Homo sapiens: one gene and its partner. The protein of the gene in region 1 purifies or fractionates together with the protein of each later gene. This does not show direct contact. Each region holds a gene or a part of one and is shown on either strand. Other genes may lie near its edges. The genes, in order: CYYR1 and PTPRF.

Region 1 (3,610 bases):
ACCATGGTGGGCTCTGAATGCAATGTAGAATGTATAACATGTAGCTATCAGAGATTCTTTGAACATGGTAGTGAATATGCTTTGAGAAAACCACTCTCAGCAGTCAACAGAGGCAGAGGTAGATAAAAGAAAAGCTGCAACAATGTAATGGCATATGTGAGGGATGATAAGGGACTCATGACAGTGAGGGAAAAACATTCTAACAGTCCTTGAGCAACCAAGTCTTTAGGTGATGACTGGGTGTGTGGAGAAAGAGAGGAGAAAGTGAAAGAAGGGGTTGAGGTATTAGGTACCAAGTACAGGACTCCTATAATTGGAGGGGGGTGGAACCATTACAGAAATATGAAGAAGACAAAAAAGGAGGACAAGTAGGTTAGGAAATGAAGATGAAACATTTAATTTTCTGAATCTTATATGAAAAATTTTCTTTATTTTGTTACTGTACCATATGTCAGTGTTTTAAGAAAGTTTTTAAATTTTAAATAATTTTATTTTTTTGAATTGACAAATAATAATTGTACATATTCATGGGGTACAGAGTGATGTTTTGATATGCATAATGTATAATAATCAAATCAGGGCAACTGGCATACCCATCATCTCAAACATTTGTCATTTCTTTATGCTGGGAACATTTAGTATCCTCCTTCTACCCATTTGAAACTATATATTATTGTTGACTATAGTCATCCAGTGGTATAGAACACTGGAACTTATTCCTCCTATCTAGCTGTAATTTTATATCCTTTAATAAATTTCTCCCTATCCATCCTTTTTCCTACCCTTCTCAGCCTCTAGTATCCTCTGTTCTACCTTTTAATATACTTTATGATGACTATACATAAAAGTCTATTTTGTAGTGGTTTCAGTTCCTTTCTCTAGTGTTGAAAAAGAAGTACTCCTTGAGCTGAAATTTATCCACGTTTCCAAGAACTGAATCATTTTGCAACATCTGAGCAACTCCCTCAGCAACCAGTCTGATGAACTGCCAGTAGCTGAATCATCATCAGGATCCTGATGCTGCTTGGAAACTGACATGCCTTAATTGCCTACTGTGAATGTAACCCAAATCACAAGACCAGTGTCATAATAATGCAAATAAGTGGGCATGCTCTTAATACTAGAATGGCAGAAAGGAACACACAACATTTCAACAAACTTTTCTAAATGTCTTCTATTAGGTTGATGCAAAAGTAATTGCAGTTTTTGCCATTAAAGTAATTGCAAAAACTGCAATTGCTTTTGCAAACGAACCTTAATTTGTACTCTTTCTAATAAGAATTTGACAGTGTTCTGATAAACAGACATAGACATACATAGGGCTTCCACTGATATGCAGAAAAAAACTATGTTTTTGATATGGTTTGGCTCTGTGTCCCCACCCAAATGTCATGCCATTTTGTAATTCCCAATGTTGGGGGAGGGACTTGGTGGGAGGTGATTGGATCATGGGGGTGGATTTCCCCCTTGCTGTTCTCATGAAGTTTTTACAAGATCTGGTTGTTTCAAAGTGTGTAGCACTTCCCTCTTCTTTCTGTCTTGTGCTGGCCACGTGAAGATGTGCTTGCTTCCCCTTCCCCTTCCGCCATGATTGTAAATTTCCTGAGGACTCGCCAGCCATGCTTCCTGTACATCCAGTGGTACTGTGAGTCAGTTAAACCTCTTTTCTCCATAAATTACCCAGACTCGGGTATGTCTTTATAGCAGTGTGAGAATGGACTAATACAATTTTCTTCTGGATCTTTTTAGTTTGCCTATCTTTACCAAGAGCTTGATGATTTGAACCACTGACTGATTGCCCTGTACTTGGAGGATGTGAGGAAGCAGAATTGAGCCAATAAAGAGAAGAGGAAGAAGGAGCCACAGAACTGAGTGGGATGTCCCCTGAGCACTCCTTGGTGGAGCAAAAGTCTTGCAAGTCTCTAGTGCGCTGGGCAGGCTGAGGGCGTTCAGCCGAGAACACAGCTCTGTAAATACATCAGCGAGGATGCATATATACAGTTTCCCCAGTGCTCCCTCAGACCCTTGGAGGCTGGGCTACTCCAAGCTCTGTTTCCTGCAAAAAAATGGAGTAAGTCCTGTGGAGTCTAAATACACATTCCCTCTGCATTATACCCACGCCTCGACTTCATTATATCTAGGAGCACTGAGACAAAGAGATTTATAACAAACTTCATCCAAGCCAAGAATGAAACACGGCAGCCTCCATGCAGCAGGAAACCCATTGATCTGTTTCTTATAAGCATGTGGTTCTATGCTGTTTTTCTGCCAAAGCTTTTCCCTGCCTCCCACTTGAGGAGCATACACCAGCTGATTCTGCAGATTGACTCTACATCATTCTCTGTCATGAAGCCATGGCATGTGTTTATGCGTCTGTAACAAAGCGTTTATATTCTGCCATCTGCATAAAAACTGCTGAAGGACATTTCAGCAAGAATCCCTATGGTTTATGCAGCTGCATGTTGAACATGAAAATCTAAGATATGACAGTGGTCTTTCATTCATACAACCTTTGAATTTTGGTAAAGTTCTGATGTAATGTTAAAGAGTGGTATTTTGAGGACTACGCATCAAGATATAAACATGGCACATCTTTTATAATATCAGCCACTGGAAGACATTTGAAATAATATTTGTATAATTGTGGGCTGTATTATCTTTCTTTCTTGCACATAATAAAGTTTCACTGGAAGTAAACTTTTCAAGTATCAATTTTAGAATTCCTGATTCATCCTAAGCGGTTTTGTTCTTTTTTTACAGGTGAAATCATACTTAAAAGTTGTATGTATGCAGCTGGAGATACGTGCCTTTGAAATCCTTTCATAACCAATATTCTAATCTCCTATTTAAGTAGGGTAAATAGGCCATTTATCCTCAACATCTGATACAGCTGTCTACAATATTAAAACATTTAGCAATACCATGAAATTCGGAGAAGAAATGTAATGTTTTCTACCCACTCAGGCCAATATTTCTAAAGCTAATGTGGTGGGAAGATGCGTGGTGTTACCCAAACTATTCACAATTATTTCAGAAAATTTGGAAACAGAAGAAAATCATCCATAATTTTGTCACCCCAATTTAACAAATCATATCTTTAAATACTGTCTCTTAGTCATTTGTGCGTAGTTGCATCCTTGCAGTCACAGAGTATGGCCTATACTTTTTCACTTTGTATTACAATGCAAGTCTTTTCATTCTGCTGCATATTCTTCATAAGCTTTATTAATGGCTGCCTTAGCAGTTATTCCATCCACTATTCACTATTTTGAGGTTAATTTTTTATTATAATTAATGTAATGATGAATATCTTCTTACACATAGACTTTTTAATTATTTTTTTTTTAGAATAAAATTCCAGGAATTAATTAGCTGGCTTAAGTAACACATACATTTTATTGCTTAGAATACATTATAAAACTACTTTCAAAAATAATTATTTCATCTTGTAAGGGTATACAAGTACATTATCATTTAATATTTTAGTAAATTAAGTAAAAATTTAGGTCTTTGTTTTACTTGATCATTTCTTTTGATAACAGCTAGGTTTGACACTGTTTTACATCTTGTCCACTGTTTGTTATTCATATTGAGTGAATTTTTTGTTGTT
Region 2 (3,467 bases), on another chromosome or scaffold:
GCAGCCTGGTCTGCGTTACCTCTGTCTGCACCATGGCAGGACGCTGTGTACGCAGGGTCTTCACGGTCTGAAACATGTCGACCACGCCCTCGTAGCGCATGCGCTCCAGGACGATGCTCAGAGTGATGAACACCCCGGTGCGGCCCACGCCAGCACTGCTCAGAAACACAGTTGGGTCAGGAGTCCTGCTTGCCTCATGCAGTGGGTCTGCCAGGCCTTCAGGCCCACCCACCCCAGCCCTCCAGGGGGCCAGTCCCACCTGCAGTGCACCGTGATAGGCCCATCCTGTCCAAACTGCTCCTTGGTCTTATGCACCTGCCCGATGAAGTCAATGAATCCCTCGCCTGTCTTGGGCACGCCCTGCTCTGGCCAGTCTGTGAACTGGAACTGCCGGATTGTCCTTGACTGCCCATCCTGGGAAAGGTGGGTGGGGTACATGATTAGAATTCGTGCCTTAGGCAGCCACCCCTCTGGACTAGACCAGGGTAGTACCATGATACAGGCATGCATCTGTGTCACTGCACCCGAGGCCACAGGGGGAGATGTGCTCACACCCTAATACCCACCCACCGCCTCAGATTTCTGAAGCTTGAGCTAAGGTACCATGCAGGCAGCCATCCACCCAGCGTGTGGACAGGCAGCGTTATGGACACACTCAATGCACTCACTCACCCGGGCATCCGTGACCTTGAACTCACGCAGGATATACTGGGGCATGTTGTACTCAGCCATCGGGTCAACAACAAAGTACTGGTAGCGAGCAGAGCGCTCTGCTGGCCAGTACTGGTGGCATTTCTCCTGTGGACAGAGGGTCGGGCCCCCATAATCAGGTGAGAAGGAATAGGGGAGGGGTGCCAGGCTTCACAGGATTCTGGGACAGATGCCTCAGGTAGTAATAACGGGCGCCTGAGGCCATGCTGACAAGCAGCTGGGGTGTCAAAGGAGACAGTAACATAGGCGGCAGCTCCCCCAAGGGTGGCTGGTGTTCTCCCAGGTATGACAGGGGCCCTGGGGGAAAGGGTGGGCTCACCCTGCCCATCTCCCGAAGCTTGGTCAGCATGACGATGATGGTGGAATTGTGCTCCCATAGCATGCGCCAGAAGTCCTCGGTGCTCTCTGCCAGAGGCCCCTGTGTAGCTATGTAGGCCTTCTGCTGTCTGGGGTGGACATAAGACTGGACATGCTGGAGGTGCTGCTGCCCCTAGAGTCTCCCCTTAGGCTGCCTAGCCCCTTGGGGCCCTGCTCAGATCACCCCTCCTCCAGGAAGTCCTCACTGCTCTACCCAGCCCTCTCTGGTCTTCTAGGCTGGCCCTACTCTGCTGCCCACCCCCACCAGCCAGGCACAGGCCTAGGCCCCTGTAGGGCATGGTGGGGCAGTGACATGCATGCTGACCTATAACCATCCAGGAAGCTGGCATTGATGTAGTCAGAGCCCTCCACACCACGGATGGGCTGCAGACACACACGGGTCAATTCGTAGGGCATGATGTTCACCAGCCGGTTCTTGAACTTGTTGCAGGGCAGGTTGGCGCTGATGAAGCGGGACGTGTGGGCCTTGGAGCTGGCCAGCAACTATTGAGAGGCAGGGATTGGTCAGGCCAGGCTTCCTGTGGGGGTGGGGGTCATCTGCATGACCCAGTCTAGGCCCTGGAGCCAAGCAGGCCCACCCGAGCCCCACCTTGAACTCGAGCTCCATGGCGGTCACACTCTCCCCTGGAGGCACTTGGCCCAGCTTCTGGATGTGGGCATACAGGTTGCGGGCAGGCACCTCTGTGTGGCCGCACGTGGCAGCCTCCAGCAGCGCCTCATGGATGAACACGTACTGGTCCTCCGTCTGCACCATGTAGTTCCTCTGTGATCGCATGCAGGTCACGTGGCCATAGATGTCCACCGTCTTCTCGTGCTTCATCCGCTCCAACATGGCATCAATCACGATGAAGCAGCCGGTGCGGCCCACGCCCGCGCTGCAGGACACGGGCTCAGCTTGAGGCACAGGCGCCCCCACCTCCCACCCCACCCACCCCTCTGGGTGGCACTGTACCCTCTCACCTGCAGTGCACCACCATGGGCCCTGCGTCTAGGGGGTTGCAGGCCTTGACCCGTCGTAGGAAGGCCAGGATGGGAGTTGGGTACTCAGGAACTCCATGGTCTGGCCAGGCCATGAACTGAAACTGACGCAGCTCGCGCTTCTCACTGGAGCCACTCTGGGGGACAAAGTGGGGACATACTGGCGACTAGGAGCCTACCTGCCATAGACTCAGGACTGAATGACCTGATGCTGAGGCCATACCCGCCACTTCCCCATGGGACTCAGAAGCCACACAGAGTAGCCTGAAGCTCCTAGCACTGTTCCCATAACATGGATCATCACATCACTCACACACCTGAGCCTCCGACCCTCCAACACCCAGGCTCCAGCTTCCCCCCGACCCAGCACACCACACCCAGGCCACTGTCCTTACAGTGTCTGGGTAAGAGATATGCACTGGGGAAAGGCTATACCTTGTGGAGTGCGAAGGTGCGCACAGTGTATGTGGCCAGCTCCACTGTGTCCAACAGGGTCACCTGAATAAGGCCACAGGTCTCGGTGCCACGGGCTGGCCAGTACTGATCACATTTTACCTGCAGGAGGATGAGCAGGGCAGGCTGAAGGAAGCCCACAGGCTCAGACGGGCAGAAGCAGGGTGGAGGCTGGTCAACTCCCTGGCTGTAGCCTTTCTGGCTACAAAGCCCCCCAGCCCTGAGCTCTCAGATCCATTGCCCCCTGTCCTCCACAAGCCACATCAGGTCCTCAAGCTATGTCACCGCCCTGCCCTAGCTAGTGGAATAAGGGTCATAATTGAAAATTATTTATTCAACGCCAGATCGCACCAGGCACATTTTCTGCCAAATTTACCCATAACGTTTATGTGCCATTTTCAAGCTCTGTAAATTTTACGTTCCAGTCAATGCTTTGCAGTCCAAAAACAGATAACAGCAGCTCTTTCCACTAATTAACTTAGGAGATGTGTTAATGCCCCAGGAACACTCCAGCATCTGGGGAACACATGAATACCCCGGGAACACGCCAGCAACTGGGGAACACATTAACATTCTCCGAAAATGACAGCATTTGGTGAAACATATTAACATCTTAAGGAACCCACTAGCATGTGGGGAACATGCTGTATCCCAGAAACACCCAGTATTTGGGGAGCATAATACCCCCAGTAACAATAGCATCTGGGGATCACTTGAGCGACTTCCTCCACAGAAGAAAGCGGCACAGAAGAAGGTGCCCTGTATCACCTTGTGGCTGGGCATTTCCCACCCGCCTCCTGGCAGGGCCCTGCAGCCTCACCCGGGACTTCTCCTCCAGCCGTGTCATCATGACCACAGTGGCCGTGCGCTGTTCCCACACCATCCTCCAGAAATCACCCATGGTCTCGGGCAGGGGGCCCTGCGTGGCGATGTAGGCATTCTGCTTG

What was found.
Region 2: the proteins of CYYR1 (region 1) and PTPRF purify together in Homo sapiens (affinity purification with mass spectrometry; one large-scale study listed by BioGRID and IntAct). This does not show direct contact.

The regions. Positions count from the first base shown.
Region 1 is NC_000021.9:26,469,002-26,472,611, forward strand, and holds part of CYYR1 (cysteine and tyrosine-rich protein 1 isoform 1 precursor), read right to left. Parts: intron 2,698-3,610; exon of another isoform or gene 1,750-2,697; intron 1-1,749.
Region 2 is NC_000001.11:43,617,785-43,621,251, reverse strand, and holds part of PTPRF (receptor-type tyrosine-protein phosphatase F isoform 1 precursor), read right to left. Parts: coding exon 3,341-3,467; intron 2,623-3,340; coding exon 2,503-2,622; intron 2,205-2,502; coding exon 2,050-2,204; intron 1,965-2,049; coding exon 1,679-1,964; intron 1,573-1,678; coding exon 1,394-1,572; intron 1,158-1,393; coding exon 1,031-1,157; intron 799-1,030; coding exon 673-798; intron 415-672; coding exon 260-414; intron 156-259; coding exon 20-155; intron 1-19. UniProt on the Homo sapiens protein: Possible cell adhesion receptor. It possesses an intrinsic protein tyrosine phosphatase activity (PTPase) and dephosphorylates EPHA2 regulating its activity.